2 linked regions of the Homo sapiens genome follow. The protein of the gene in region 1 purifies or fractionates together with the protein of each later gene. This does not show direct contact. Each region holds a gene or a part of one and is shown on either strand. Other genes may lie near its edges.

Region 1 (3,500 bases):
TCTGTCTCTACAAAAATAAAAATTAAAAAGTAGCCAGTCATGGTGGCACGCACCTATAGTTGCAGCTACATGGGAGACCAAGGTGAGGATTGCTTTGGCTCAGGAGTTCTAGGCTGCCGTGAGCTATGATTGTGCCACTACACTCCCACCTGGGTAACAGAATGAGATCCCATCTAGACATGACCTCCTGCTGACTCCTCACCCAGCCAGCAGTAGACTGGAGGTTTGGTTTGTGGATAGATTCCAGGGGGCTAGGAGGAGGTGCACAGTGGAATGTAGGCAGACAGGTCCCACAATGAGAAGAGAGGGGGTAGGAGGCAGTCCATACGCTGAATGAGACAGCCCAGTCTCCTTCCTCTGATCGCCAACAACCACACTTACCCCCACCCAGGACAGAGGATTGTTTTCTAGAGAAGCTGAATAGTCCCACAGAAAACACCTAGAGACACTGGCATTTGAGGGTCTCAACAGAAAGACCAGGGCCCCTGCCAATCACTCACAGTGACTGACAGGCCCCAACCAGACTCACAGTATTATTTAGTGCTTTCCTCTTCAGTATGAACAAACAAGCAAAAGAAAAAAAGGAACTTGGAAGAATTGGAGACAACACAGGGGGCAAAAGAACTTCAGGAAAACTTAATTAACATCTTTAGATAAAAGAACATACTGCAGCCAGCCGCAGTGGCTCACACCTGTAATCCCAGCACGTTGGGAGGCTGAGACAGGCAGATTGCTTGAGCTCAGGAGTTCAAGACCAGCCTGGGCAACATGACAAAACCTGGCCTCTACAAAAAATAACAAAAATTAGCCGGGTGTGGTGGTGCATGCTTGTAATCCCAGCTACTTTGGAGGGTGAGGCAGGAGGATCGCTTGTGCCTGGGAGGCAGAGGTTGCAGTGAGCCAAGATTGCATCACTGTGCTCCAGGCTGGGCGTCAGAGTGAGACCTCATCTTAAAAGAAAAAAAAAGAACATACTGCACACTGCATACATGACACAGAACTGGGTGCTATTAAAAGAAGAAAGAAAAGAGCAATCCACAGCAAAAGAACTCTTGGAAACTAAAAAATATGATAGCCAAAATTTTTAAAATAATAGTAGGGTAGATAAGGACAAGAAAATTTTACCAGAAAGTAGAACAGAAAGGTAAGATGGAAAATAAGAAAGAAGAGAGAGAGAGAAAAAAAAAGAAAACTAGAGTGCCAAACCAGGGCATCTAACATTCATCTAAAAGAGATATCTGAAAGGCAGCAGACAGAACACAGAGGAGAGGAAATCGTCAAAGACAAAACTCAGAAGATTCTCTCAGAATAGAAGGTGCTGAGTCTCCAGATGGAGGGAAGCCACTAAGTACCCAGCACAAAGGATGAAACAGACCCATGCCAAGATGCATCAGAACAGGAAGTACAAAGAGAAGATCCTGAAAGCTTCCAGGAAGGAAATGCAGGTCACATACACAGCACAGAAAACCAGAAAGGTATAAGACTTCTCAGCAACCATATTTGAAGCTAGGAGGCTATGAAAGGCCTTCAAAATTCAGAGGGAAAATTATATCCAACCTAGAATTTTATTTCCAACCAAACTATTGATCAGATGTGCAGAAAGGAAAAATAAGAAACATTTTCAGGCATACATTCTATCAAAAATCTTTCCTTCCTCAGCCCTTTCTCAGGAACCCACCAGAACAAGGGGGTAAGTTGAGAAGGAGGAAGACACAGCACTACTTTGATAAAAAATAAAATATTCTTTAAAATTACATTTAAAAGCTGATTTCTCCTGAGAAATCTGGTCCTCAGAATCTGGTCCTCATGTCCTCACCATAATTTCAAAAAAAAAAAAATACTGGATTATAAAGTGCATGTTTGTCAACATTGTAACATTTCTGAAATTGTTACTATATTACAATGGATGGCCTCTTAGGTCAATCAAATATGGCAGCAGCTAACATTTACAAGCTGTTGTATAGTTTGCCACAGTATTTAATGTACCTTTCCCTTCTTAGGCTTTGCAACCTTCTGAAATGAGTTTTACCAACCCCATTATGAACACCAAGAAACAGATTCCACGTGGTGAAGCCACTGAGAGCCGAGACTGGACCGTATGGGCTCTGGGTGGCAGATTTAAGGTTGATTGAGTACCTTTTCCTTACCAAGGGTTTTCAACAGATCATTTCATTTGGGTCTCCTCAAACATCTGCTCTTTTGACAGCTGAAGGAAATGAGGCTCAGCGAAGTTACGCAGCATGCCCCACCTCACACTTACAGTAAGTGGCAGAGCCAGGATCTGAACGTGAACGTCCCTCCACTGCCTCTGCTGTTTGGCTGGCATTAGGGGCAGAAGCTGTGTTCCCATGGGAACCAAACATGGGGAACCACCAGCCCACCCCAGAGTAAGACCCCCCACCGCCCTCGCCCCTTCGCCTGCAGCTCCAGCTGCACTCACTGCATGAGCATGTCCCGGGCCAGGTCTGAGAGGTAGCGTTTGGATCCACTCAGGAATAGGGATCGATATCGCTGCCGCCTGTCCTTTGTCTCCATCAGCCAGGTGTTGAGGTAGCGGCCCACACCTACTGGGTTCTGCAACAGGGAGAGGATGGCAGGACATTAGCAAGCCTGGCTTGGAGACTGTGTCTCGGCTTCCTCTCCTCCCCTTGGACGCTTCCCTACTCCATCTGTTATGAGTTGAATTGTGTCTCCCAAAAAGATATGTTGAGGTCCCAACCCCGAGCAACCCCAGTATCTCAAAATGTGACCTTATTTGGAAAAAAGGTTGCTACAGACATAATTAGTTAAGATTAAGTCATACTGCAGTAAGGTGGGCCCTTCTTCCAATGTGACTGGTGTCCTTTTAAGAAGAGATACACAGGAAGACAGCCATGCCAGGAGACAGGCTGGAGTGACGACTACAAGCCAAGGAACATCAAGGATTGCTGGCCACCACCAGAAGCTACAAAGAGGCAAGGACAGATTCTTCTCAACAGGTTTCAGAGGGAGCACGGACCTGCAGACGCCTTGATTTCAGACTTCTCGCCTCCAGAACTGTCAGAGAATATTTCTGTTGCTTTAAGCCACCTAGTTTGTGGCAGCCCTAGGAAGGGAATACAGCATCCCACCCAGATATCGGGGTCACAGATCCTAGAGGCACCAACAGAGAGGTTGAGAAAGGAGATGCAACTTGCCCAAGGTAACACGGCAAGGGCAGAATAAAGGCAGGACAAGAACCCGGCCATCTGCAGAGAAGCAGTCCTGAGGGGTGGGCTGGGGAGATGTTAGGACCCAGAAGCTGGTCCCATGCTAAACAGAAGTTGCCTCCCACAAGGGAGAAGCCTGTTTCATGAGGCACCCAGGTTTTGGAGGTGCCAGCAGAGGGGCTCTCCCGCCCTGTGGGGTGCGGTCAGCTGAGCCACCAGAACCCGGACCTCACATCAGCCCTTCCCACTTCACAGTGGCTGGCTCTGTGGTAGCAGTAGGGTCATCTGGCTCTGGTCTAAACATTTCATTTG
Region 2 (3,500 bases), on another chromosome or scaffold:
TTGGGAGGCCAAGGCGGCCAGATCACAAGGTCAGGTGATCGAGACCATCCTAGCCAACATGGTGAAACCCCACCTCTACTAAAAATACAAAAATCAGCTGGGTGTGGTGGTGCACGCCTGTAATCTCAGCTACTCGGGAGGCTGAGGCAGGAGAATCACTTAAACTAGGGAGTTGCAGGTTGCAGTGAGCCAAGATCGCACCACTGCACTCTAGCCTGGTGACAGAGCAAGACTTCATCTCAAAACAAACAAACCAAACAACAACAACAACAACAAAGAAACAGGAGCTTAGAAAGGTTAAGTAATTTCCTCGAGGTCACAAAATTAAGTAAGTTGCAGAGTCAATCTTTGAACCCAGATTTATTCTATCTTCATTGTGTGTCATGCTACAATGACTCTAAAAATCCAGGTAAGACAAAGAGGCCTTGAACTCTGGCAAAGAATTGAAAGGACACTAATATTTTAGGAGCAACTTGAGAGATAAAAGCGATGTGATTTTTATATTATTTATAGTGATATGATGGAGAAAGAAGGTTGGTGCTATAAGTTTTATCTTACGAGAGAGGGGAGGATGGTTATTCCACTAATAGTATTGGTTATACAGGAGTTAGGACAGGTTTTTAAGGAAAAAAAGATTACTTCAGTATTAGACACACAAAATCTGGGGACTTGTGAGACATCCAAACAAAGATGGTTCAGTAGGCATATAGAAATATAGAACTGGAAATGTCAGAAATAGAAATACTGAATTAGAAATTATAAAAACATAGACTGTGGAGGCGGCCAAGGGATTAAGTGACCAAGGGGTGATTCAAATGAGAAGGTGTAGGACAGAAACTTATGGGAAATGTAATTTAGTTGGTAGACAGGAAGAACAAGGAGCCAAGAAGGCTGAGAAGGAATTATCTGAGATAAAAATATAGGACAGGTCAACTGTGTCTCAGTGTCATGTCATCTAACATAACTCAAATGTAAGGAATTGGTGCTGCTTATAATATGGCTTTGATAAAAAAAAACTCAGCCTAAAACTATGCAAAAATATGAAAAATGATAACCATCAGGGGTTTGACAGAAACCCTGAATTGCATGTAGCTTTCCACTTAAATAAATAATCATAAATGCAAGTTTAAAATGTTTAAAAATGAAAAAAAAAAACCCAAACAAACCTTAATAAATTGTTTAAGAAAAAATAAACTTATGAAACTGGTTCCTTTTTTTTTTTTTTACTATATCTGAACAATTTCAGAGATCTCAAATTTTTCTTAAGCTTTTAAATGGCTAGAGGAATACAGAACCAGTTGGAATTAGATCCATATACAAATTTAATTGCCATTTATTAAAAATGAAAAACAGGGAACCTAAATTTCCAGTCTACAGATGTAATTACATTATGTATATCTAGAGTAGTTACTTAAAAACATACTTTTCAAGAAATATTTTAAAAATATTATAATCTACAGTAAAAAAATTATATAGCAAACACTTTGTAGAGGACAATGCCAAGTTTTCCAAAGCTATATATGCTGTTTTTGTATATACATGTACTGGAATTAAATTGATTTTTTACTTTTTCAACAAAAGTAATATGCTTATAATAATCAAGTCATATAGCATTAATAATCAGGAAAGCACAATAAATGTTACCAACAATTTACCTGAAATTCATTCACATATTGTGCCATCACAAACTCATGTCTTTCACTTGATAAAGGTTCTGCTAGAACATCAGGCAAAGTTTTATGAACCAGGCTTTTCTTCTGTGAAGCAGTCCCATTGAGGTGACAATCAAAACCTATGTTCCCAGGAAGCTGGAACCTCTGATCTTGAGGTCCAAAGGGTCCCATAGTTTCATCAGGCCACACTGTTCGAGAGCCTGAAGAGAAACAACAAAAGGAACAGTTTCTCCTTAATAGTCAAGTATATTGGTAGACTGAAAGAATGCTCTTCTTAAAATTATGTATATTTTTATCTAAAAGATCTTCAAAATCTGCTTTCCCATGTGAATATAAATAGTTTCCTATTGTTTCCAAAACACTAATCAAAGCAACTGATTGACAGATCACAGGCAAGTCCGTTATTAGGGGAAAGACTGAATAAAATACTCTAATCCATACTAAGAAATGCTTGAATGTCATTAAAAAGAAGACAATAAACCTTTACATACTGACACTGAATGAAATCCAGGATACAATGCGTTAAAAGAAAAAGCTAAGTCAAAGAACAGCATGTATAATAACATTTATTTACATCCCCATATTCACGTATTGTTTTGTTTTTGAGACGGGTCTCTTGCAGTACAGTGGTGTGATCGCAGCTCACTGAAGCCTTGACCTCTGAGGTCCACCTCAGCCTCCCAAGTAGCTGGGATCACTGGTGCACACCACTATGCCCAGCTAATTTTGTTTATTTTTGGTAGACACAAGGTCTCCTCCTCCCTCAGCCTCCCAAAGTGCTGGGATTACAGTCATGAGCCACTGTGCCAGGCCCATGTTTTTAAGTAAAGAGAAGATCTAAAATGAAACTTAGTAATGGTCGTCTGGGGAGGGGCATTCTGCTGCTGTTATCTGGTGGCACAAAATACGAACGGGAAAAAAAATCATGCATCACATGACCTAATGCTCTGTTTACCAGCCACATGAGTTAATATGGATTGCAAATATAGAACAGACCACATTACTTTATTCACTTAAAACTTTAAAAAAAATCCTAACTTATAAAAAATTCAGAAAGATTCAGAAAAGAATAAAGTAGAAAATTAAACTAATAATTACTCAGAGTAGAGATCTGGGCTTAGAGAAACAGAGGGACAACTGCTATGCATATTACTTAGCAATAAAAATAGATATTTAAAAATATCCTGTCAGAGAACTAAGTAACTGAGAATGGCCATGTCAGCATGGCTGTCTCATTCCTGGATCATGAGCCACCATATCCCTCTTCCACACTTAGGACATACATCACCCATCAATCATGGAACCATTTCCTGCTGAACCCAGACAACGTCTCAAGATTCTCAACATAAACACTCTAGTCCAGTGCCCCTCAAACTCTAAAGATGTACTTAAGATACATCTGGGATCTAGTTTAAATGCAGATTCTGATTTAATAGGTCTGGAGTGGGGCTCAAGATTTTGTATTTCTAACAAGCTCCTAAATGATACTGATGCAGATCATGTTGAATAACAAGGCTCTATCTAGACAGCCACTAATGACTACTCAAGTCACTTCCCAAGAGAAAACCTGTTAGCTATTTTTGAACAAGATGGTTTTTAAAAGTCTAACAATCCCTAGATTCTCTTTACAGAAAACAAGCATCCCATATTAATAGTAGATTTGGGCAGTGGATTTGACCATATGTTTACTGGTCATTTTAGGTTTTGTTTTCTGTGAAAGGCCTATTCATGTCCTTTTGTTTTCTGATTTTCTGTTGGGTTATCTTTTCCTATTGATCTATTATAAATTCTTTATATATTCCAGATACTAACATCTTATATAATTTG

What was found. The genes of interacting proteins can lie anywhere in the genome.
Region 2: the proteins of CIMAP2 (region 1) and MMADHC purify together in Homo sapiens (affinity purification with mass spectrometry; one large-scale study listed by BioGRID and IntAct). This does not show direct contact.

The regions. Positions count from the first base shown.
Region 1 is NC_000001.11:54,816,063-54,819,562, reverse strand, and holds part of CIMAP2 (ciliary microtubule-associated protein 2), read right to left. Parts: intron 2,575-3,500; coding exon 2,441-2,574; intron 1-2,440.
Region 2 is NC_000002.12:149,577,776-149,581,275, forward strand, and holds part of MMADHC (cobalamin trafficking protein CblD), read right to left. Parts: intron 1,874-3,500; coding exon 1,656-1,873; intron 1-1,655. UniProt on the Homo sapiens protein: Involved in cobalamin metabolism and trafficking. Plays a role in regulating the biosynthesis and the proportion of two coenzymes, methylcob(III)alamin (MeCbl) and 5'-deoxyadenosylcobalamin (AdoCbl). Promotes oxidation of cob(II)alamin bound to MMACHC.